2 separate regions of the Homo sapiens genome follow, and region 1 is linked to region 2. Evidence: fine-mapped expression QTL. A gene starts in region 2. The other region holds a variant in brackets. All regions are shown on one strand. Distances are between the middles of the regions.

Evidence for each region. PIP is the estimated chance that this variant, and not a neighbour inherited with it, causes the effect.
Region 1: its variant is fine-mapped to the expression of FARP1 in testis (GTEx, PIP above 0.99).

Annotation. Positions count from the first base shown.
Region 1 is chr13:98,322,172-98,334,742 of GRCh38, forward strand. All of the region lies in intron 2 of FARP1 (FERM, ARH/RhoGEF and pleckstrin domain protein 1), which reads left to right. It overlaps LOC105370327 (a long non-coding RNA gene), which reads left to right and starts at 6,035. Exons shown (of 3, transcript XR_931667.3): 1 at 6,035-6,153; 2 at 6,365-6,636; 3 at 10,600-11,067. The variant A/G (reference allele first, on the strand shown) is at 6,991.
Region 2 is chr13:98,136,563-98,149,133 of GRCh38, forward strand. It overlaps FARP1 (FERM, ARH/RhoGEF and pleckstrin domain protein 1), which reads left to right and starts at 6,532. Exons shown (of 27, transcript NM_005766.4): 1 at 6,532-6,930. LOC105370328 (a long non-coding RNA gene) reads right to left here and starts at 7,348. Exons shown (of 3, transcript XR_931670.4): 1 at 7,277-7,348. RefSeq lists silencers at 5,983-6,032, 6,273-6,582.

The DNA.
Region 1 (12,571 bases), 190 kb after region 2:
CCTGTAATCCCAGCTACTCCGGAGGCTGAGACAGGAGAATCACTTGAACCTGGGAGGCAGAGGTTGCAGTGAGTGGAGATTGCACCATTGCACTCTAGCTTGGGTGACAAGAGTGAAACTCCGTCTCAAAAACAAACAAACAAAAAAATGTGCCTGGCATAGGACTTAGGAGAGAGTCAGCACCACCTGAAAGGCACTCCAGGAAAAATACTGGCAATGTGAAGGATTGTTAGTGACATGATGCCACTTCCAGGGTGAACACCAGCCTAGCTCCAGCCCAAATCCACATGCTTCTGGGAGCACTGGGATTTGGACTGCAGTTCATCTTGCTTGCAAGAGCCACCATGCTGCACCATCATCCCTCTCACTTGTCAGTGCTCCTTAGCCGTCAGTGCTCCTTAGCCGAGTACAGTTCTGACTGCCATGCGACCAAGACCCGGAGCTTACATGCTCCTTATTGGAAACAGAAGGAAAACTCTTGTGTGATAGGAAGAAGGCACTGAGTAGAGGCTGTTCCCCGGGAATTATCCAAGAATCACAGCTCAGCCGAGGACTTTCTGGTACTGTGCATTTCAGATTTTAAATTTCACGGTTATAATAACCATCTTGCACAAAGGCAGCCGAAACCCAACCAACTGAAAACACGGGCACACACATACCGTATATACCACGCATACATGCATGTCAGCCACACACAGATGATTTGCCTAGAAATTTGTTTCTCCAGACCTTTTGGCAGAATAGCTATTTGTCATGGGAGAGGGAGGAAAATATTTGCATTCGTAATAGGAAGAGTTTATGGTTGTGAATAAGCTCATGTTTGAAAAAACAGTAATATTAGATATATGGTTGCTGGCACTACACAATTGCAGGATGTAATAGTGGCTACTAACATTAAACATTACTTAAAATTACATGCATTATAGAAATGGGGATATTTATCTCATGTTTAATGATCCGTGGTGAAAGGATTTGTTGCTTACAATCCTTAAAATGATCAATATATTATTTTAACACTTTTAAAAGGGAGTTGGTTTTTTGGTTGTGAGTTAGGAGCAGTTGTCATGCACATATTTTATAATAAAATTTTAGATTTGTTGCCACAGTTTCATTAATATATTTAAGCAGGTGTGCCCAGGTAGTGGAATCAGAAAGGCAACTCGATTTTATTTAAAATATGGTTCAAGTGGTCTCTGTAATGAGAAATTCACATGGCTTTTTTTTTTTTTTCTAATGAGTTTCCTGCTGGCTTCGGAGATGTGGTTGTTTACAGTAGAAGTATTTTTTTTTTCCATTTGAGGCTTCCATTATTATTATAAGATCAATAATAAATACACTGAATTTATGTCTGTTAAATATTTTTAGCCTGCTCCTAACACATGAAAATATTACATACCTGTTTTGATCTATTTGTATTCTGTTCCTTCCAAGTTTTTCTATTTTAAAGGAAAATTCTTGAAGGCCACCTTTTAAGGTTTCTCTAATTGGCACATCTCTGGTCATTAACTTTTTACTTTTAAAGGAGAGCAGAAAGACAGATTGTAAAAACAAAAAGTAGATATCTAGTTTATTTTGCTACTTGATAAGAAAAAAATCTCCAATTCTTGCATACTATTTGCAGTTAACTTTATTCAGCCTTTAGAGGAAAATGTCTCTTCCTTTCCAGAATTCAAGCCCCATAATTTTGTCTTCCTGTTGAGTGTCAACAATTTTTTTAAAGCCTATATGAGGAAGCTAACTTCCGAGCAATTAAGTACTCAAGAACCAGAATTGAATTTAGTCATTTTTATATTTATAACTAATACACATTTTGAGTTTCATCACAACTTGAACTATGTCTGAGGAGTTGCACATGAAGGATTTTATTACTTGATTAATATATTAAATGCACTAGGAAAATTTCCTCGTAAAGTTTCATTAAAGAGTTAAGATAGTCCTTTATTTCATGCGTACATTGAAGTTATGTATAATGGTGGCTGTGAAATGTTTTCTAAATTTCAGGTGGCTCTTGATTTTCTTTGTGTTTTCATTTGTGGCTTGGAAAGAAAAACAAAGGTCAAGTTACTCTCATCCTTTATCACCCAGTGTTTCATGAAGGAAGCCTCATTTTCATGAGGAAATCTTGGCGTGTCTACTCCAGCTTGTGTATTTTGGCAGTATGGAAAAGCGAAACACGGTTCCTGCTGCGCCCACTGCTTTTTGTGTAAGATCTATTTTGTATTGGGTAACCTTGGCATTCAGTGTTTTCACATTTAATTCGTAACTGTCTGCAAGTTGTTATGAAGCTGAAATTGATGATCCATCAGTTCAGTCTAAAGAGCGTGTTGGAATCATGATTTGATATTTTCTGGAAAGAGTTTACTTTTTGAAAGGATGCCCTTAGCTCTTTTTCTAATGTCTTCAGAAGAAAAAAAATGGTTTACTATTTTCAGAAAAAAAAGGCGATGTACTCACTGGTCTATTTTCTGTGATCAAAATGTGTTGACCACCTACCCCTGGTGTGTGTTTCTGAGCGTCCTTGGCAGCCTCTGCCTTCACAACCATTCTCTTTTCAAATTCCTCTCCTTTTCCCTTTCCCGTTTGTGCTAGTAAAGACTCTTGGAAGCATCAGGCCCTGATGAGCTGAAGCCCCCATTCCAGGGGTCTTTGGCTGCTGCATTTCTGACTTGAGCCACACAGCGAAGACCTTCTGACCTATGGCTTCTGACCTATTGGCCTTCATGGCCCATGGCTGCCTTCCGAACTATTATTTATGGTGGGCATTGAGGGATTCTGTTTGTTGGCCATGCCTTAATGCTCTGTTTTTTGAGGCCTTAACACAGTAGTTGAAATTTCTTGGCCAAATTGGATAGAGAATGTGAAATAGATACTGTAGAAGCACTTCAGAACACTCTGTCATGAACTATGGGATAATAATGAAGACTTCCCAGACTGACTGGTAAGTAGTCCGTAAGGAAGACTTGTGGAAATAAACCCTGAAAAATATGGTTTATGCATTTGATGTTGGAATAGAAGAAATTATTTTGTTTCTATGTTTCAACAGCCTATCTTTCCATGAGTATTGAAAACAGTGCTTCTATTTTTTACATTATTGGATTCATCTTTACACTCAAGTGATTACTAACTTGGTTAATAAAACTGTTGTGTTTTCCTTTTCTTTTTTTGTCTTTGTCACGGCTCTCTATCTCATATGTTCTGTTTCTGGTACTCTATCATCTGTACGACACTGCTGAAAGTGAAGGCTCCCACCTGACGCCCCAGCTTGCTGATTAAATTTAGGTTAGGCTGATGATTTAAGGAGTAAACCATCTCACCAGCACTGTTCCAGTTCTTCACTGGTGAACCAATGGTAATGTCTGGGTTGAGAGTTACAAACTGAAATCCAGGAGAAATGCTGATCTTCCCTGTCTTGCTAATCTACCTTGTACTGGAACCCAGAATCAGGTTCCTAAATTCTAGATTACACAGCCGTGACAGAAGGCATTGAGAAATCAGAGAGGCACATACTTCTCCAACACATACTCAGGTTTCCTCAAGAATATTTGTCATAATATTTGTAGCTTGTCCAGTTTGATCTGCATGGAGTTGTCATAAGAAAGTCTTTGTGGCTGAGGATTTGGTAAAATGCAGCATGCTGGTGAGAGTTATATCTCTTGTTTAAAACAAAACAAAACCTGAAACAACCAGGGCCTGAAAGCCGCACTGTGTTCCCAAGACTCCGCAACAGCCACAGGGCATTTTAGCAGAGAAAACAAAGCTTGTTTTATAGCTTCTCTTCATAGGTCTCCCTGACAGGCTTAGAGGGACATTGAGTGAAAATGGAGCTGTTAATGATATAATAAATGCTTCTGAAATTTTTCTATTGGGCAATCCCTCAATAGCTGACTGCTTTGAAAAATGAATGAAAATCAAACATAAAGACACAAATGGCTTCGTCTGCTTGGTAATGAATAAACATATGCAAAAGGACAATCAGTTGCAGGTGTGTTGCCTGTCTATAGTGTTTTGTTTCTGCTTTTGTGTTTGTCTTCCAAGCAATTAATAAACCAGCCTGGCCTATAATATCGTTCTGGAAACATTCTTTTTCACAGGCTCAGACTTGGAGATTTAGCCTTAATGCTTTCTTTTCTTGTTTTAGTTAAAAAAACCCACCTACATAAAATTTACCACCTTCATCGTTTTTAAGCATACAGTTCAGTAGCTTTTCGTATTTTCACATTGCTGTGAAACAGAGGTCCAGAACTTTTTCATCCTGCAATCTGAAACCCTATTCCCACTCAACAACTTCCCATTTCCCCCTCCCTTGGCCCCTGGTAAGCACCATTTTGTTTTCTGTTTCTGCGAATCTGTTGCCTGATTTCTTTTCCACACGTGCTGGTTCCTGCATCTCCTCTCCTGATTCACTACAATTGGGACTAATCATGCCTTTCAGGAGGAGAGAACAATATGTAATTTTCACAGTGGTTTTTATAAAATAGAGTACCTGGTACGTGCCCACTAGGATATGCAGCTCCAATAAACTTTTCTGTTGGCATAATTCTTTAGAATATGTTAAAGTCATCTCACGTAGTTGAGGAGTTAGATGGTGAAGGCAGATCTAAGCTTTTAAAACTAGATCATTTTGCTGCCTGTGTCAGCTAGAATTGAGTCTCAACTGTCCAATTCCTAGGCAAACCTCTGAACTCATCTTCTTTTAGGGCATGTATAATTTTTGACAGATGACAGATCTGTTTTAAAAATGTGCTTATTGTCCTTTGGTATTTTAATTTGATTTGTTTTGAGCACTCATGTTATTGTTTATAAATGTGGGCCAAATGCATTTAATGAGTACACGCAATTGGTAGAATACTGTCGCTCTGAATAACCTTAACTCTCTATGGAAGGAGACACACTCCATTTTCATTTGTGTAAATTCTTTGCTGTAGGTCACCACTGTAGATTCACATTTCGAATGCTGTCAAATCATAGAAGTATTAAAAAATATTTGTTTTTAAAGATGGCTCTTATTGCTTGCATTGCTTTTTCAGAAACCTCTCTCTGTTTTCCAATACGGCTTTTATGTCAGTGCTGGTATTAGGTCACTGTAGGCTGCCCATGTCACTAAATTTAGTTTATAATTTCACAGGATTTTTTTTAAAATGTGTCATCGAAACCCATGTTTCTTAGTATATATCTTACATTTGCCTTCAATTTTCAAACAGCTAACTTTTGCAGTGATGATACCTACATAAAAGGGAATTATCATTAAAACGGTGCTTGTTAGGATGGTTTACTTTAAGATAAGGCTTCATAACAAGGGACTTAAACTGAGCAAAAAACTCAAAACCAGTGTGAGTTAACAATGGAATGTGCTAAATCTCAGGCTTCCTTCTCTTGGCCAGATTTTAAAACAATCACATTGAGAGCAACAAAGTTAACTGGTGAGCCAGTTTAAAGGGAACTGAAGTTTCTGATAAAGTCTTTCCCTCTTGTCCATGGGGGATACATTCCAAGACCCCAGTGGATGCCTGAAGCCATGGATAGTACCAGACCTGATTGCTGTCACTCTGGACACGTTTCTGTTGTCAGCTGAAGGATGAGACAGTTTGTAAATTTGGAAAGGAGCTTTTTGTTTCTCATAAAGGGTCGCAGCCTGCAAAGCGGGCATTCTGACAGGCTAGGAAGCATAGCTTCTGGTCAGAAGCCAGAAACAGACACTTCAGAGGGGAAGAATAAGACAACAATTTATGCTGAATGGGGTGGGTAATAGGCATATTCAATAAGCTATGGGGGAGTCATGAATATTCATGAAACGAGAACCATGCGCACGCGATTGAGATTCACGGTCCCATGTTCAAAACATGGCAGTGTTAGCATGATCCAAGGGCAGAGTTTTCTGGACTCTAATGTGTTAAGCTGAAGCTGAGGACACGCAGGCCCTCACTGCACAGCCCCCACAGGCTGGTGGAATGCTGGTTTGTTGTTTCATTGACATCACAAAAGGGAGGGGTGGTGTCAGTCTGTTGGTTAAGTCCTAGGTGGAATCTTTGGAAAGAACTGGCTTTTGTTCAGCCCTTAGGGAAGAAAGCCTGTGGCCTTTAGCAAGCAAGGATGGGGGTGTAACCAGGCTCATCAGACCTCCCATCCCCTCACAGCCACAGACCCAGCTTTAAGGTTACTCTGGGGTCCCCTTGGCCAAGAGGAGGGTCTGTTCTGTGGGTTGAGAGCCTTAGGATTTTATTTTTCTTTCTTCTTGTTCATGCCTTCAACAAGTATAAAGCCCTTTCCATCTTAACTAAGCACTTATCACACACTGTGGCTGTAACTTCTGCAGCTTGAGGTGCGATGGCGAAAGTATTATTAATTTCTTTTTCCTTCTTCACAGTTTCCCAGACGGAAGATTATTCTTACTGCAGATCTTAGCAACCTCAGCACATGACTCTTTTTCTTTCCTCATTAAGTCAAGAACCTTTGGCCTTTTCACTTAAAAGAAGCACTCTAAGGCTTCGCTTTGACATACCCCAGTTGCCAGCATCACTACTGTTTGGGACCATTAGGAAGTAAATTCAGGGAGACTTGAACACAAGCACTGCTTATCTCGAAAGCTGATCTGCTCACCGAGGTGGCCCTTGAGCACGGACAGCCTGGATCTGCTGGGTAAAGGGAGAAGTTATGTCCAGGGTGGGACAGAGAGGACGGCGAGAGATTTCCTCACTACTCAGAACAGCGGGAAATTCAAAACTTAGGGATTATTTCTGAAATTTTCCATTTAAAATTTTCTATTTAAAATTGACGAAGGGTAACTGAAACCAGAGAAAGCAAGACTGACGATAAGGGAGGGGCCTCCTGTACTCCAAGAGCACTGAATCTGGAAAAACTCAACACATCGATGGAGTCATATATTTAATTTTTTCTTAAAAGCCGCCTGCGGGGTATTGTAGAAACGCTGCGCTGCCTATCACAGCTTGTGATGTGACACGTTCATTCTGCAAGTTTAAACTTCGCCTAGGT[A/G]TTTCTTTTCCTGTGTGACCGTCACATGACTAGTTTTGTTGTGCATTGTTGTAGAAGTTAACATGTTTCCCTATCGAAAGAATGTCATCTTCTATTTTCTCTGTTTCTTTTAAGCTTTTTTCATATAGTTGGCCTTTTGTTAATGGTCAGCATTTATGGCTTTTTGCAGACAGCATCTCTTTGAGCAACAATTTCTTGAAATAAAAAAATATATTCTTGGCCAGGTGTGGTGGCTCACGCCTGTAATCCCAGCACTTTGGGAGGCCAAGGCGGATGGATCACTTGAGGTCAGGAGTTCAAGACCAGCCTGATCAACATGGCGAAACCCCATCTCTACTAAAAATACAAAAATTAGCCGACCGTGCTGGCGTGCACCTGTAATCCCAGCTACTTGGGAGGTTGAGACAGGAGAATCACTTGGACCTGGGAGGCAGAGGTTGCAGTGAGCCGAGATGGTACCACTGCACTCCATCCTGGGCAACAGAGCAAGACTCTGTCTCAAATATATATATATTTTCCCTAGTTGGCTTTAGACTCTTGACCCCAGCTTATAGTTGTTTTTGTTAAAGACTGTATTATTATGGTCTCTCCATGGGAATTATGGTTTTAAAATTATTTTATTCATTCAGCAAATCTTTATGAGCATCTACTATGCATCATGCTGTTCTCGTGAACAAAACAAGATCCATATCCTGAGGGAGTGTGCCTTCCAGCAGAGAAAGACGGCAGTGTGTAAGGAGCGTTAGAAGAAGATGTTGTCTTTTGTGTGTAGAAAGTGGTATGTAAAAGTGAAAAATAAAAAGAAATAGAGCAGAATCAGGGATGGAGGTGTGGGGCAAATTGTAATTTTGAATAGGGTAGTCAGGGTCGGCACTTTTGAAAGCCTGACGTGAGCAAAGCGAAGAAAGAGGTGAGGGAATTAGCCACAAAGATTTCTGGGGACAGAGTGTTCCAGCCTGTGCAAAGGCCTGGAGGTGGGTGTGTGCCTCGTGTGCTAGAGAACAGCTGGCCTGGCTGGAGAGGAGTGAGCCAGAGGGAGGACATTTGGATATGAGCTCAGGTAGGTGACAGGGGTGGGGCAGATCACTGGGGACCCTTTTTTCCATTGTGAGGACTGTGGCCTTTACTCTGAGTGAAAAACATTTTGAGTAGGGGAGTGACATGTCTGATTTAAAGTAGAAGATGATTGTTTCTGATAAAGCTGACTTGAGAAGCTATTTGGAAATTGTTTATGTGATAAGTCAGATAGTAATCATAAGTGACAGAGGTTAAATGCAGGCAGAGAAATTCAAGGAAATTGTCAGAAAAAATATTTCATCTACCGGGCATGGTGGCTCACTCCCAGCACTTTGGGAGGCCGAGGCAGGTGGATCACCTGAAGTCAGGAGTTCGAGACCAGCCTGACCAACATGGTGAAACCCCGTCTCTACTAAGAATACAAAAATTAGCTGGGCGTGGTGGCAGGCGCCTGTAATCCCAGCTACTCGAGAGGCTGAGGCAGGAGAATCACTTGAACCTGGGAGGCGGAGGTTGCAGTGCGCCAAGATCACGCCACTGCACTCCAGCTTGGGCAACAGAGTGAGACTCCATCTCAAAAAAAAAAAATTAAGGTACTCACAGAAGGTAAAGAATGTCATTAAGCTGCGTGGTATCCCAGTTCCTGAGTGTCATGAGTGTCCACAGATGTATGAGTGTGTATGTGCAGTAGAGTCATTGCAGGAACATTTAGGCATGTGAGGCTCTCTAGGTTTGGGGCCAGAGGACATGAGTGCTTAGAAGTTTTCAGGCAAGCCTCATTTCCAGAGTGCCCTTGGAATCACTGCTATCATCAGTTGGAATTAGTTCTTTAATTAAATCCTGGCCATCGATCAGCATCCCTTTCTATTGCATTTGACGGAGCTTACAGAATCTGTGTTGTAAACAAAGCAGAAGCATCTTATTTCCCAGAACTGTGGTTTATTAACACCTAAGGAAACTGGTTGTCTGATACTCATATTTTTAAAAAATGTGCTTAGTAATTCATAATCTTTTAGTCCTTCTAGACTGTCAGCATTGTTGGATATGCTTTATGTATACTTTTGTTATATGCTTATTTGTAAGTTTCTTTTTCCTAAATCGAGAATCTATGTGTTCGTATTTTGTCCTACTCTAGCAAGCTTTCAGTGGGAAGAGACTGCCATCCGTAGTGAACCCATATCATTTTTTGTTTCTTAGTCGTTTCCTCATTTGTGGATCATAGAGACCCCATTTCCCACCTTTTTCCTCTTCTAGTCAGTGTCTCATTCCCCAGCTGCTCATCAGAAGATAGTGAAATATGAGGGGAAGTTTAAGTTTTATTTTATAGTGATTAAAGTACGGTGAGGTTTAAAAATACTGAAGGTGGAATTTTCATAGCTACCAAACGTTGAAAATAACACAACATATTTCAACTAAAAATGAAGCAAGGTGGGTAACTGACTTCTTGAATCCCTGCTGGATGATGGCACTGGTGCTTAGCACTTTATGTATATTTCCTTCATTTAACTCTCACAACCACTCCTTTATCGGACGTCATCATTCCATTGTTCAGATGGGAAAGCCAGTGTCCAGGCAGGCCAGGAGACCTGCCTGAGCCCCACAGCTAGTAAGTGGCAAGCCAGCTTCAAAGTGTTGACGTGATGAGCCTAGAACCCCTGCCTTCCCCTATTCTATGCTGTTCCCAAATATCTCCCACAGTTTTGCGCCTAATAGTAATAGCTTCATCTGTTGAAAATGACATCAAAGTTAGTTTTCCTTCCATCTTTATAATGAAAATACTTTTTATAGTGCTTGACTTTTTCTACCCTCCCCACACCCACCCAGTTTACCAGTCCATTTTGTAGATTGTCAGTATTTTCGGATATGCTTTTTTCCCCATTTTTTAATTGTGGTAAAATATACGTAACATAACTTTACCATTTTAACCATTCTAAGTGTACAGTTCAGTGGTATTAAGTATGTTTATGTTGTTGCTCAGCCATCCCCATGTCTCCAGAACTTTTTCATCTTCCCAAACTGAAACTCTGTCCCCATTAAACACTAACTCCCCACTCCCCTCTCCCCTTCCTCCACCCCCAGCCCTACAACCACCATTCTCCTTTCTGTGTCTGTTGGATATGATTGTACTTTTGTTATATACCTGTTTGTAAAGTTCTTTTCCATATTAATCTGAGCTTTCCAGCTTTTCAAAGGAGAATAAATACCAAGTATCTGGTTAGAACTCTGACCTCTTTGCAGAACACAAAGCTGGAGCTGAAGCTCACCCCCACCCCCACTCACTCCCGTGGTTAACAGAATATTAAACCTGAAAAGTACATTTTAAAAAAAGAATGAAAAGTAAAAATGTTTGGGAAGTTTTCTGGAAACTAAAGAGCTAAGAATTCTTAAAGGATCCGGAAAGCTGTGTTTTCATACTTCAGTTTGATGCATGGATTTTCAGTTTAAAAGCCTTTTGCATAAAAACATTAAAGTCTCCTTCTAAGGGGTAAGAAAATCTTCCCATTCTCCCAACTGACTATTTGAAAAAAATGTTAAAAAAGTAGTTTCTGTAGAAAGTGTCTGTAAACAGAATAATTTTTCATTCACGTTAAGATCGGTTCTTGGGGAAAAGCTGTGCTTCAGAGACAAGGTTGAAGAACTTCGCCTGCATATGATGGAAGATGACAATGGGAACCACAGGTGTCATTGGTGGCTTTGTTTTACAAAGTCTTCACCTTTCTGCTGAGTCACGGGACTAAGTTCAACACAATTTCTACTTTCCGCCTTCCTTTGGAATAATAGTTTTGGAAGCCAAGTATTAGTATATGATACCAGGTGTGTTTTCTAAAGATTCAGGTTCAGTGGGCTGAATGCACTTTCATGACTTCATTAGACCACTGAGCCCAAGGAGAAAAGTGCCAATCTTACTAGACATGAGGAAAAAGACACATCTTTTGCTCTTGCTGGAAGTGGTGTCCTACTTTCTACAAGCAGTCGTCATCTGGTTTATACTTGCCTTGTTCAGTTTTTGTGTGATATTTTATTCTCTGCCTAATAGATATTAAAGTATCAAGCTGTCAAGATGATTTTTTAATTTAGATAAATTTTAGAATTTTTTATTCATCTACTTCTAAAAGGGTGAAAAGATAATGAATTACTCAAGATCAGGAGATGACAAACCTAGCACTATGAAGAGCTGGATTCTCCCCTAAATGTTTTTGTTTCTGTTGCTTGCTTCATACCAGGTTTGCAAGAAAGCAGTAGAAATCCCCCACATGTACACACACACACACACACACACACACACACACACACACACACAAAATCTATCTTTGCAGAGTTTTGGAATGAAAGAAGGAGGGAGTTGTGTACTAATGACGCCGTGGTTGTGTCGTTGCTCCATTATAGTGAGGGAGCTGAAAGGGCCCATTCTCTTCACAGCCTGGAGTCGGGGACTCTGAAACCTAATCTGAAGTGTGTTTAACGAGGGTTCTGAACGCTGGGACTTATTGCTGAGGGGAACAAGGAGACAGTGTGTCCTCAGGGGCAGTGTGGCCGCCCCTAGAGCCACAGCAAGCAGGAAGAATCGCAGCATTTGTGGTCAGAACCGATGGGCAGGCCTAAACATTTAGCTACTTTGCCCCAGAATGAAAGCCTTGTTCCAGCTCCCCAGGGTTTGGATTTAAAGTTTTAGTTCCTGTCGGTGGTCGCAGTTTCCTGACGAGGGTGCCATCCAGTCTGCTGTTCAGCTTTTGAGTCATTTAATTTTTCTTCTTCCAACTTCTCCTCCTCCACCTTCTCCTCCTCCACATCATCATCATCATCCCAAATACCCATTAGAGCTCGCCTAGTCTGGATGCCGTTCTAAGGGCATGGTGTATACTAAGTCGCTTAATCCTTACGGTGACCCAGTGAAGTGGTTCAATCTTTACGTCCATTTTATGTAAGAGGAAACTGAGGCACAAGAAGTAGCTTGCCTCCAGTGAGTGTGACTTTGGGCACTCCGTTGTCCTCCAGCCTGGAAAGTCCCAGTAGATACAGCACAGCTGAGGTGCAGGTGTGCAGGTATATCAATCCCTTCTGCCCACAGGGTAAAGCCCTAGAGCATTGCATCTGGTCTCAAGTGTCCAGGGCTCAAGTGTCCAGCTTTACACAGATGTTACTGCTGATGTCTGGAAAGTGAAAAAGGTAGTAACACCCTGTTCTGGCTTCTAATATACTTTTGATACACACAGGCAGAAGGGCAGTGTCAACTCATCCCCTGTAATTCATTCTGTAAATTTCCCTTCACCATCACGGTGGCAGCAATAATAAAGAATGTGTATCATGTGCCAGGCCTTTTGCTAGGTACTTTATGGTCATGGTTTCATTGAATTCTCACATTAGTCTTAAAAGGGAGATAATAATAGCATAAAATAGCATCTCTAGCCCTTTCATGACTCATGTGCTGTGGACTAAATTGTACTCCCCACCCTAATTAATTTATTGATGCCCTACCCACCATGTGGCTGTATTTGGAGTAAGGAAGTACACTAATTAAGGTAAAATGAGGTCATGAAGATGGAGCTCTGATCTGATAGAACTA
Region 2 (12,571 bases):
AAACTTTTGAAATTAACAATAATTATGGGGTCCAAGCAGTATCAGATAGTAAAATACATTATGAAGCCATAAACACAAACATTTTGGTAACTGGCACAGGGATAGGCAGATAAGTAGAAAAGAATATTCATAGAAAAGCGGATCCTAAGGTAGGACAAAGTTGGCATTTTAAACAGGTATGGAAGATGAAAGTAAGATGGGTTTTCAAATCGTATCTGCTCAGCCATTTGGAAAAAAGATGTTGGAGGCATGTGTCATTTCTTATGCCAAAATAAGATATAGATCAATGATAAAATATAAAAATAAAACCATTAAAGTATAGAAACATGATGATTTTTTAAAACATCTTGCATAGAGAAGACATTTCCAAGCATGACACAAAAATGTGAAAGCATAAAAGTAAACACTGACAAATCTGACAACATAAAAATTAAGAACTTGTTGTGAAAAAGAGTACCATATTAAAAAACGTAAAAAATATTCATTACATGATAGCAAAGGGCTAATTTCCTTAACATATAAAACATATTAAGAGTTAACAAAAAAAGATAACTCAATGGCAAAATGAGCAAAGCACATGAAGGGCAGTTAATGGATAAATGCCAATGAATAATTTTTAAAATAATGAGATTTTGTTTTTGCCTGTAAGACTGACAAATATGCCTGGGAGCGGTAGCTCACGCCTGTAATCCCAGCACTTTGGGAGGCCGAGGTGGGCAGATCACGAGGTCAGGAGATTGAGACCATCCTGGCCAACATGATGAAACCCTGTTTCTACTAAAAATAAAAAAATTGGCTGGGTGTGGTGGTGCATGCGTGTAATCCCATCTATTTGGGAGGCTGAGGCAGGAGAATCGCTTGAACCGAGGAGGCAGATATTGCAGTGAGCCTACATCGCACCACTGCACTCCAGCCTGGGTGACAGAGTGAGACTCCATCTCAAAAAAAAAAAAAAAAAAAAAAAAGACTGACAAATATTAAGTTTGCCAATATCCAAAGTGGGCTAAAGAATGATCATTCTCAAGCATGGTTAGTGGGTTCATTTATTGTTCCATAGTAAGTCATGCAAAGCTTAATGGCATGAAATTACCAGTTTATGGGATTGGGAATTTGGAAAGAACACAGGGTTCTTCTCTGTCCATGGTGTCCTTAGGTGGTATGACCCAAAAGTCTGGGGTGGTTGGGATGGCTGGGAACAGGGACAGTGGGAGCTGGAGAACTCATTCTGAGGTGGCTTCTTCACTCACGTTCTGACACGAGGGATGGGATGATTGAAAGACCAGCTCATCTGGGACTGTCAACTGGAACATCTCCAAATGAGCCTCTTGAGTATGACAGTCTCAGGATTGTTGGGACTTCTTACATGGCCACTCAGATCTCCAAGAACAAGTGTATGCAAAGAACAAGTTAAAAGCAGCATGGCTTATTCTGACCTAGCTATGAAAGTCACATCACGTCCACTGTATTCTATTGACCGTAACAGTTATGAGCCTGTCTAGATTCAAAGGGCATAGACATAGATCTGAACTCTCAGTGGGAGGAGTGTACGATAATTTGTGGCCATGTTTTAAAATCTCTACAGTGGAAGAATAAATTTTTGCAGTGTCTTTGAAGTACAATTTTGCAATATCTACCAAATTTTAATATGCAACTATCTTTTGAACCAAAGGCATCCCACACAGATAGTCCCCGGAATCCTATCCTCTACCTCCCCCACTCTCTCCTTAAGCTGTTCTCCATCTGGCTTCTGTCACCACCAGTGCTGCCCCTTCCCCTCCAAGGTCTTGATTCTTTGCAGAAGAATAAGGTCTTACCTCCAGATCCCAACTAATACCTCATAAGTTCTCCAACCTCAGATGTCTACTTCATGTCAGTTGCTTTCTCTGTAGCTCAGTTTCTGCTGGTTCCATTAAGGGCTGCTGAAACTGAGCTCAAAATCCCAAGATTTCCCACCAGCTACACAAGGAGATTCATATTCTTCCTGTTGACACGACTTTGAAACTGCTCATCCTAATATTCTTCCTCCTACCACATTATGCTGTGTTATCTATTGCTGCAAAACAGGTTATTCCAAAATGTGGCTTAGAAGAACACTTATCATCTCATACTTCCTATGGGTTAAGACTCTAGAAATTGCTTAGTTGGGTCCTCTGGCTTTGGGTTCCTCATGACACTGACATCACTTCAAGTCTCAGCTGGAAAGGACTTGTGTATCACATGGTTGTTGGCAGAATTCAGTGCCTCCAGGGCTGTTGGAGTAAGGCTTCCCTCTGTTCCTTGCCACTGTGGGTCCTCCATAGGACATCTTACAACATGGCAGCTGGCTTCATCAAAGTGAGCAAATGAGAGGGCAAGACCGTATCAGTAAGAAGTTATGGGCCTGGCGCGGTGGCTCACGCCTGTAATCCCAGCACTTTGGGAGGCTGAGGCGGGTGGATCACGAGGTCAGGAGTTCAAGACCAGCCTGGCCAAGATGGTGAAACCCCGTCTCTACTAAAAATACAAAAATTAGCCGGGTGTGGTGGCACGCGCCTGTAATCCCAGCTACTCAGGAGGCTGAGGCAGAGAATTGCTTAAATCCAGGAGGCAGAGGTTGCAGTGAGCCGAGATTGCACCACTGCACTCCAGCCTGGACGACAGAGTGAGACTCCGTCTAAAAAAAAAAAAAGTTACAGTGCTCTGTGACCTAATCACAGAAGTGACACTGCCTTCCTTTTCTGTATTCTATCCATTAGCAGCGAGTCACTAGGTCACACTCAAGGCAGGGGGATTACACAGAATGAGCCCACCACAAATGCTACAAGCAGATCTCTTTCCGCCTTGGGTTTTAATACAGGCTGCCTCAGTTACTGTCAGTGCATACTGTCACGTCCAGAGAGCATCATCACCCTAAACCCAGGTTCTCCGAAAGGTGATGTGTTGAAGGGGAGGGAACTATGGAATAAAAAGTTGTGTTTCACTGTGACGTGTGATCTCTTAATATGAAAGATTTGCTTGCCCCCACACACTTTTGTATATGAGCAGAAAATTCCTGAAAGACTGTAAAAACTGTTGGGAAAATTATTTCTAAGAAGCGAGATTAGGGATGCAGGAAGGGTTCCTTCTAGGTTTCACTTCATACTCTTCTATACTGCTTAATTTTATCTTGACATGTACACACGTTTTACAGTAAAACAGTTAAAATTAATAAGAGGAATTGTTAAGCACAGGGTGATTCCTTAATCCAGAAAGATTTCTAAATAACCCATGCCACAGCTTGGGATAAAAGGGGGATCTAGGGGGATTATACATTTTTATATTCTGAAAGTTAAGCATAAATGACACACAATGACAAGGAAACGCCTAAGTTTTTCAGAAGTTGATTTTCCAGGTTCAGGATTTTCGAGGCCAGGTACCCCTGGCTTTTCAGGGAGAGGAATTTAAAAAGTGCTTTCTGGCCAGGCACGATGGCCTTATGCCTGTAATCCCAGAACTTTGGAAGGCCAAGGCAGGGGGATCACTTGAGCCTAGGAGTTCGAGGCTGCAGTGAGCTATGTTTGTGCCACTGCACTCCAGCCTGGGCAACAGAGCGAGACTCCTTTTTTTTTCTTTCTTGAGACGGAGTCTCGCTCTGTCGCCCGGGTTGGAATGCAGTGGTGTGGTCTCGGCTCACTGCACGCTCTGCCTCCCGGGTTCACGCCATTCTCCTGCCTCAGCCTCCCAAGTAGATAGGACTACAGGCGCCGGCCACCATGCCTGGCTAATTTTTTGTATTTTTAGTAGAGACGGGGTTTCACCGTGTTAGCCAGGATGGTCTTGATCTCCTGACCTCGTGATCTGCCTGCCTTGGCCTCCCAAAGTGCTGGGATTACAGGCTTGAGCCACAGCGCCCAGCCAAGACCCTCTCTTAAAAGAAACAGTACTTTCTATCAGGTTAGGTACCAACCGCGGAATGTTGGTGAGAGCTGGGAGGAAACGTAGGAAGTTCTCTAGTGTGACCCCACCGCTTTACAGCCTCTCTAACTAGATTCCCAGAACTGCCCCTTCTCCCCTCTCTTTTCCCCCATTAACTCTCTCCCCATGGGCTCCTGCCCTCAGCCTGCAAACCTCAGAACGGCTCCTTTAAAAGTCACCTTCACAAATGTTGATAATGTTGAGATAAGGCAACATGGGATATTATGTATTATCATATTGATTAATATGATCAATATATTATGTGTTATGATCATAAATAGTTTTAAGATCACAACTAAATCTAATTCTAGACATACAAAGACTATGAAAGAAATGCTGTAACATGTAGAAAATGTCGGTCTTGCAAAGAGAGTGACTGGGAAAATGTCACTTTTCTAATTTTCTGCGCTTTCTATGATTTTTTGCTTTTATTATTTTTATGATTTTTTTTTTGAGATGGAGTCTCACTTTGTTGCCCAGGCTGGAGTGCAATGGCACGATCTCGGCTCACTGCAACCTCTGCCTCCCGGGTTCAAGCAATTCTCATGCCTCAGCCTCCCGAGTAGCTGGGATTGCAGGCGCGCACCACCACGCCCAGCTAATTTTTGTATTTTCAGTAGAGACGAGGTTTCCCCATGCTGGCCAGGCTGGTTTACAAGTTCCTGACCTCAGGTGATCCACCTGCCTCAGCCTCCCAAAGTATTGGGATTACAGGAGTGAGCCACCGCGCCCGGCCTAATTTTTTCCTTTTAGTTGGGAGGTATGACATAGCACTTTGCTACTACGTGTAGTCCTTGGACCAGCAAGTAACACCTGAGAGCTTGTTAGAAACAGTCTCAGACTTACTGAATCAGAATCTGCATTCCAACAAGATTCCCTGGTGATTCAGGTATACACTAGAGTTTAAAAAGCCGCCTACAGCAACTGTTCTCAAACCTGGCTACACACTGGAATCACCTGCGGAACTTTACTGATGCCTGGGTTAGAATCTTTATATATTTGGCTGGGGTGCAACCAGGGTGTTGTTTTTTAATCGCAGATGATTCCATGAGTTTGAGACCCACTGTCCTAACACTGTGATCCTCCAAGTGTGATCCCAGGACCAGAGCAACATCACTATCTGGGAATTTGTTAGAAATGCAAACTCTCAGGCCCCACCCCAAACCTACTGAATCGGCAGCTCTGGGGATGGAGCCTGACAGTCCTTTATCCCTGCAGGCGATTCAGATGCTTGCTAAGGTTTCATTAGGTAGGTCGGGGATGCGGCCCAAGAATGTTCATTTCTTGACGTTTCCAGGGGCTGCTGGTGGTGGTCGTGGTCTGAGAACCACACTTAGAGAATCACGAGCAGAAAAAAATCTGATCTGTGACACACAGCTGGTTGGGCTGACAGAGCAAAGCCTCAAACCCACCATTTCTTCTCTTCAACCACAGACCACCAAATCTGCAAGTATTACATCTCTGCTCCTCCCCAGGAGCTGCCCACAAGCACCCCCTACTTCCAAGACCCCTGTTCTTGTCTCAACCCGCCCTTCTATCAGGGTCCCTACACTCCACTTCTGCCCAGCTCCTGTCCAGCTGTGAGTTCACTTGAGGCCTCTCCCGTGAAATCTGCCCTCTCGGTCTGAGGTCAGGGAACTCCTGTAAGACGCAAAAGGCCCACGGTTCTGAGCCAGTGGCCTCCGAAGGCCGGAATCCGCTAGCCCCGGGTCTGGCAGAACGTCACTTGCTGCGCCCTAGGCCTCTTCCCGCCACGCTTAGAGAGAGGGACTGGAGGCTCAGAAGGGGGAAGAGAAGGTAACGCGGCAGCTGCTGGGTGGGGACGGTGACTGTGCCCCTAGATCGCTGCCTCCTGGGTCCTGAATCTTGCTCCCCGCTCCGTAGAGTTCCCGAAACCCCGAAGGCTCTCAAGCACCGCAAGCCACTCCTAACCTCCCCCACGCCATTCCCCAAGGGCACTGTCCCCCGAGGCTGGGCGGGCGGGAACTGTCATGGGATTCGCTCGGGCGGAGGGCGCTGGGCCAGGACGTGGGCGGGCGCGGGGTGGCCGCCGCTCCCCCAAGCTTAAGTCCCGCGCAGCCCGGGGTGGTGCCGGAAGCCCGTGCCTGTGGCTCCGGGGGAGGGGAGGGCTCGGTGGGTCCCTGAAGACTGTCCTCCCCGCGCGACGTCGCAGGCGAAGCAGCCCCAGGCAGGACCTCAAAAAGCGACCTGCAGAGTCCGAGCCCCTGACCGCCCGCCTGCCGCTCCCGGCTTCGCCGTGCACACGTCTCCCGCTCTCCCCGGTTCGTTTTTCGCCACAGCTGCTGGATTCGCGTCTCGCCAGTGGCGCTCCCCGCGCTGCATTAGGTAGCGCCGCGCGGAGCCCGGCCCTGGCCGGAAGCCCAAGAGAGGCGCAGATCCCCGGCGGCGCGCTGGGCTCGGGAGGCCCCTGGGCGCACCTGCCCGGGCGGAGCGGAGCGGGGCGGGGCGGGCGCAGGGCGCGGGCCCGGACGCTGGAGGGGGCTGTGGCTCTCCCGCGTCCCCGCTGCTCGGGCTGCGCGGCGCCCGCCTCCCCCCGCCGAGGGGCCGGCCCAGACCCGGGGAGGGGCGGTGGCCACTGCACTTCCCGCTCGCCGGCCTCAGAGGCGGCGGGTCCGGCGCGGGCGCAGCGGTGCGGGCGCTCGGCTGGGGCGCGGGGCGGGGACGCGGCCGCTGCCCGCTTTGCGCCGCTCCTCCCTGCGCGAGTAGCGCTGGCCCCGGCGTCGAGGCGGCCATGGCGACCCGGAGCCCGCTCCCCACCCACCCCGCCTGCTCCGCCCTCCCCTCCGCCCCGCGCCACCTTTGATGGCTCGGACCTCAGCCGGCCACCGCCAGCCCTGCTCGCGCGCCCGCGCCGCCGCCGCCCGCGGGTATTAATAGCCGGCGCCGCCGCGCCCTCGGCCGCCGGGGGCTTGGGAGCCGCCGATCCCGGAGCCCGAGCCGGGAGAGGGAGCCGCCGCAGCCGCCGGCGCTGTGGAGGTAGGAGGCGCGCGGTGAACAATGACCGCGGCGGGAGGGCGGGGGCCGGCGGGGTCCGGGCCGCGGGCGGCAACTTGTGCGAGTCCAGGCTCCCGCAGCGCACGGCCGCGGCTGCGGGCGAAGGTGGGCGCGTGGTCCCCGAGGTCCTGCCCTGCGCAGTCGGGCGGCGGGTCGGGCCCGGGCAGCCCCGGCCACCATCGCAGGAGCTCGGGGGCCTCGGGGCTCCGGGCTGCCCCCTGCGCCCCTCTCCCCTCACCTCCGCCGACGTCGGGCTGCGGGGCTCCGCGCCGGTCCCCGCTCGCCTCCCCCGACCCCGGCGCCCTTCCCCCGTTTCCTTCCGTCCTACCCGCCCGCTGACAGCGCTGGACGCCGCTTCCGGACCTCGGGCCGCAATCTCGGCCCCTGAGGCCGGTTGCGGGCCGGGGAGGTGGCCGCTGGCGCGGATGCCGCCGGGTGCCCGCCGCTCGCCCACGCGCGGCGCGAGGGTTCCCGGCGGGTGACAAAGAGGAACACACCCTCTGCCCAAGTTAGATTTGTGTCTCTCTTTACTGTCTGCCTTTATGCAGGGCAAAGTTTTTTTTATTTTTTATTTTTTAAAGCAAAGGACAGATTGCTTTGCGGCGAGTATTTCCAAACAACTTCTGATTGTGGTTTTACGATTCAAGTTCCGGAAACTTTAGCTGTGTGATCCGGCTGGACCCCGGAGACTCTGTGTGTGTGTGTGTGTGTGTGTGTTTTATTTGAGGGGGGGAAATACGAATTCCCTGTAATGAGTCTGGATCTCGTTTGTGGCAGCTGGAGGCCAGCGGCTGTTGGGGATCGAGTAGGGTTCCCCAGAAAGGAGGGAGCTGAGGCTCACAAAGAAGCGAGGCCCTGGTATCTGATCAGTTCGTGGAGACGTGGGAGAGCCTGCTTGTCATCTGGAACAGTTTAGCAGCCTCGGCCTCCCTGTCTCTCCCAGCCCTGGGGAGTACCGGTGGCCTCTGGCCGTTTCATTATATTGTTGTTAAGGCTCTTCTCCTTGTCAGTTTACCAGGTTTGACCGCCCAGCCCTGGTCTCTGCGTGGAAACCCCCGGGGGCCCCTCTCCTTCCAGTAGGCAACATCTTCAGAGCCAAACCCTGGCCTAGCACTGGCTTCTGTTTAATGTGCTTTGCACGTGGTGACTTGCGGAGCCCATTTCAGAACATCCTCCAGCATTGTCTTGCTTTTCTTATTCAGTCTGAACAAGGAGAGGAGAAAGAAACATCTTTCTGGTCCTGAAAGCTTTAGGGAGAGTTGCCTTAAAAATTGGCTTCGTTGTTCCGGAGACTTTAGGAGGGCCCTGCTTCATCCTATCTTTGGCTTTCTCCCTCCTTCCACAGTGTTCTCGTAGGGGGTTTATTCTCAGTCTTTCGGATGGGTTGGTCTCCAGGATGTGACAGTTTCTGACAGTGTGCTTCATAAGTGGGTACAGCTAGCACATGGCTCACTTTATATTCCTGCAGCATCGTTCTGCAGCAAGGCATCAATATTGGAGTTACTCCAAGCACAACGAAGCGTTTGTGTTTTTAGAATGTCTGGCTAATAGATCTGCTTCTGGGTAAAATAAATAGAAGCATTATTGGGCAATGGCTGCTTTACTGAGGGAATTGTTGGTGGAGACAGTGAGTAGATGCCTTCCTAGCCCAGCGCCTCCCAGAATCTCTTACTTGTTTCTTTTATGTGAATGGGAAACTGGAAACCCTCGGTGTGGAGGTGGCTGTGCCTCCTAGGGGCAGATTCTATGGTGCACCACCCCGCCCCCGTTACTTGGGGTGTGGTGTTTCATTGAGAAGTTCTGTCACTGTGGGAATCCTTTTGAAGCGTGGTTTCTAATGCCCCCTTTCACATTGATATTCTCTTCCTTTAATTGATACAGGGATGGATTTATTCCTTGCTTCATAATAGAATGTTAACTTTACTCTGTAGCCAGACTTATCAAAGAAGATCTTAAAATAATTATCCTGGACAAGTTTCTTACTGGGTTATTGCATTCACCTCAGAATTATCCAGAGTTTACAAGGAACCTGGAGGAACGTTTTTGTTTCACTTTTCGTTAAAGAAACTGTCCAAGGGGGCTGGGCATGGTGGCTCACACCTGTAATCCCAGCACTTTGGGAGACCGAGGCGGATCACTTGAGATCAGGATTTCCCAGCCTGGCTAATATGGTGAAACCCTGTCTCTACTAAAAATACAAAAATTAGCCAGGGGTGGTAGCAGGTGCCTGTAATCCCAGCTGCTCAGAGGCTAAGCCAGGAGAATCGCCTGAACCCAGGAGGCGGAGGTTGTAGTGAGTTGAGATTGGGCCACTGCACTCCAGCCTGGGCAACAGAGTGAGACTCTGTCTCAAAAAAAAAAAAAAAAAAGAGAAAAAAGGAACTGCCCAAGGAAATTGTTTTGTTTTGTTTTTTGGTTAAAGATACAAATAAGATAGCATTGAAAGGGTTAGTTTTTTTTAAACAGTGAAGCTTATACTCATTTAATTTATTGAACACCTAAGAGCTTAATTCATTTGGAAAATTGTATATATTTATGAGGAGGATGCTTGTGATAAACATCAGAAAAAAACAACTCTTTTCATCCTGGACGGGATTAGAGAATACTAGAGAAAGGATAAAAGGCTGGTTTCTGCAGGCAGAATATGCTTAGGAAAAATGGCATTGTGATTTTCCCAGAGGATAAGAGAAATTCTGTGGATTTGTAAGTACTGTACTTGCCTGATTTTTTTTTTTGAGATGGAGTTTTGCTCTTGTTTCCCAGGCTGGAGTGCAATGGCGCAATCTCGGCTCACTGAAACCTCTGCCTCCCAGGTTCAAGCGATTCTCCTGCCTCAGCCTCCCCAGTAGCTGGGATTACAGGCATTTGCCGCCATGCCCAACTAATTTTCTGTTTTTAGTAGAGACGGGGTTTCTCCATGTTGGTCAGGCTGGTCTTGAACTCCTGACCTCAGGTGATTTGCCCGCTTCGGCCTCTCAAAGTGCTGGGATTACAGGCGTGAGTCACAGAGCCTGGCCTTGCCTGATGTTTTGATAGCATGGTGGACTGGACATTTTAAAGAAGCCCTTTGTAACTGGCCTTGCTTATTGCAGATAACTGCTTAGTGTTTTTGAGAAATGCACTTTCCTCACCAGCTGAAGGTGCTACAGATAAGAGGGGCAGGTATAGTCCTGTAATGCAGGTGCTAAAGTCTTTCTACTTTGGAAGGACAGGCATTCCCTGTATTGGTTACCGTTTGCCTGGGAAGGGAGGCTGTGGGGTTTTAGGCTCTCGTGGCAGTCTCTCTCCTGTTGTTTGGTGCTTTTGATTGAAAGGAGCCTCTCCAAGCCTGGCTATTGAATGGGAAGCAGCGGATCAACTTCTTTTCTTGTCTTTTAGTGTCAGAGTTTATTCTGTGGTGGTACTGGGTCACAGTCCTTTCTCTCTGTTTCACCCATGGCAACTTAGGTAGGCTGTTACCTCCTTAACCACTTCCACATGGCCAGGAAGATCAGAGCCAAACGGTTTTCATTCAAATTACTTGAAATACTGATTTCTCCAGTCCTGTTCTGCCAAATGCAGCCTTTGTTTTCAATCAAGAAGCCCCCAGAAAACGTGTATTTAAAACTGGCAAAACTTTTTATAGGATGCCCTTGCCCTGGTTTGAATTAGTTAAAAATGTTTGGCCAAGTGGATACTTTGAGCAAAAGTGGATAATGGATACATTACTAAAATATCATGCTCGAAGCTTTTGATACTAATCCGGCGAGACTGAAACTGAGGCATGCTCAGTGCTGCCTGCAAACTGTTAACTCAGATTTTAAGTTTTCTTAGTTTAATGTGGGATGGAAATTATGAACTTCAAGACTTGCAATTAATGTGGGAATTCATCATTTACACTGAATGAATTTCATATGTAAAACTGTCATATTTGTTCACACATTAAAAAAAAGAAGAGCCTCAGGCCACACTAGACTGCCTTTAACTCTCAATTATGATAATAACCTCTGACCACAAGAGTAACTTCACTTTATGTGCAGACTTTTGACGAAATGCTTTGCATAAATTTATTATCAATTAGAAGACTTAAAAATCCAGTATTATGATGACTTTCAGTTTTTGTTCTTGTTCATTCAGGATCTAGTATAGTATCTGAATATAGCAAACCCTTGGTAAATTATTGTGTTCTGTTTTCTTTTTGAAAAAAACTCGAGGCTGGAGTGCAGTGGTGATCATGGCTCATTGCAGCCTTGACCTCTTGGGCTCAAGCAATCCTTTCATCTCAGTCTCCCGAGTAGCTGTGACTACAGACACATGCCATCACGCCCAGCTAATTTTTTCTTTAAAAAAATTTTTCTTAGAGAGTCTCACCGCTATGTTGCCCAGTCTGGTAAATCCTTGTTGAATGAATAATAAATCCAGTTTTTACCATCCCTTCAAATTAGTCTTTAGGGTTTTTAAAGGAAACTTGTTATTAGAATTGATAGATTGCAGTTCTGGCAGTTTGATATTTGATTTTGTTTTCATTTCATTCTAATTTAGCAATTGAATCCTTAAAGCTAAGTCAGATTGTAAAAAGACAGAGGTTCCTTTTCAAAAAAAAAGACAATAAGGTGCGGTGGCTCACGCCTGTAACCCCAGCACTTAGGGAGGCCAAGGCGGGCGAATCATCTGAGGTCAGGAGTTCAAGACCAGCCTGACCAACATGGAGAAACCCCGTCTCTACTAAAAATACAAAATTAGCCAGGCGTGGTGGCGCGTGACTGTAATCCCAGCTACTCGGGAGGCTGAGGCAGGAGAATCGCTGGAACCCGGGAGGCGGAGGTTGTGGTGAGCTGAGATTACGCCATTGTACTCCAGCCTGGGCAACAAAAGTGAAACTCCGTTTCAAGAAAACACAAGACAATAAAAGCATGAAGAAGAAAATAAAACAAACTTGAAATCCTGCCACCTGTTACTGACTCCTACCTTAGCATTTTGGGATCTGTTCTTTTATATAGCCTTCTCATTTCTTAACCTGCGCCAAATTTGACATTCTAATTGTTTTATATGGTACTTGTCTGTAAATTTAATGTGCTCACCATTCCTTTTTGTACTTTGAAGCTTGCTTCTGGGATACATTTTCCTTCTTCCTGAGACACATCTTCTAGAAATTCTGTTAGCATCTGTTGGTGGTAACTTCAGTTTCTGCATGTCTTAGATACCTTTGTTCTTGAATGGTAAGTTTATCTGGGTGTGCAATTCTGTATTGTTCCTGTATTAATCAGCTGTGTTCTGGTCCCATTGCTGTTGCTGTCTAATTATTTGTAACTAGTCTGCCTTTTCTCTCTGGCTACTTTTAAGATGCTTTGGTGTTCTGCAGTCTGGCTATGACATGTCTAGGTATTTCTTCTCTCTTTTACTTTTTTTTTTTTGAGTCAGGTTCTCACTCCCATTGCCCAGGCTGGAGTGCGGTGGCATGATCTCGGCTCACTGCAGCCTCAACTTCCTGGGCTCAAGTGATCCTCTCACGTCGGCCTCCCAAGTAGCTGGAACTACAGGCAAGCACCACCACACTTGGCTCATTTTTTGTATTTTTACTAGAGATGGGGTTTTGCCATGTTGCCCAGGCTAGTCTTGAACTGCTGGGCTCAAGTGATCCTCC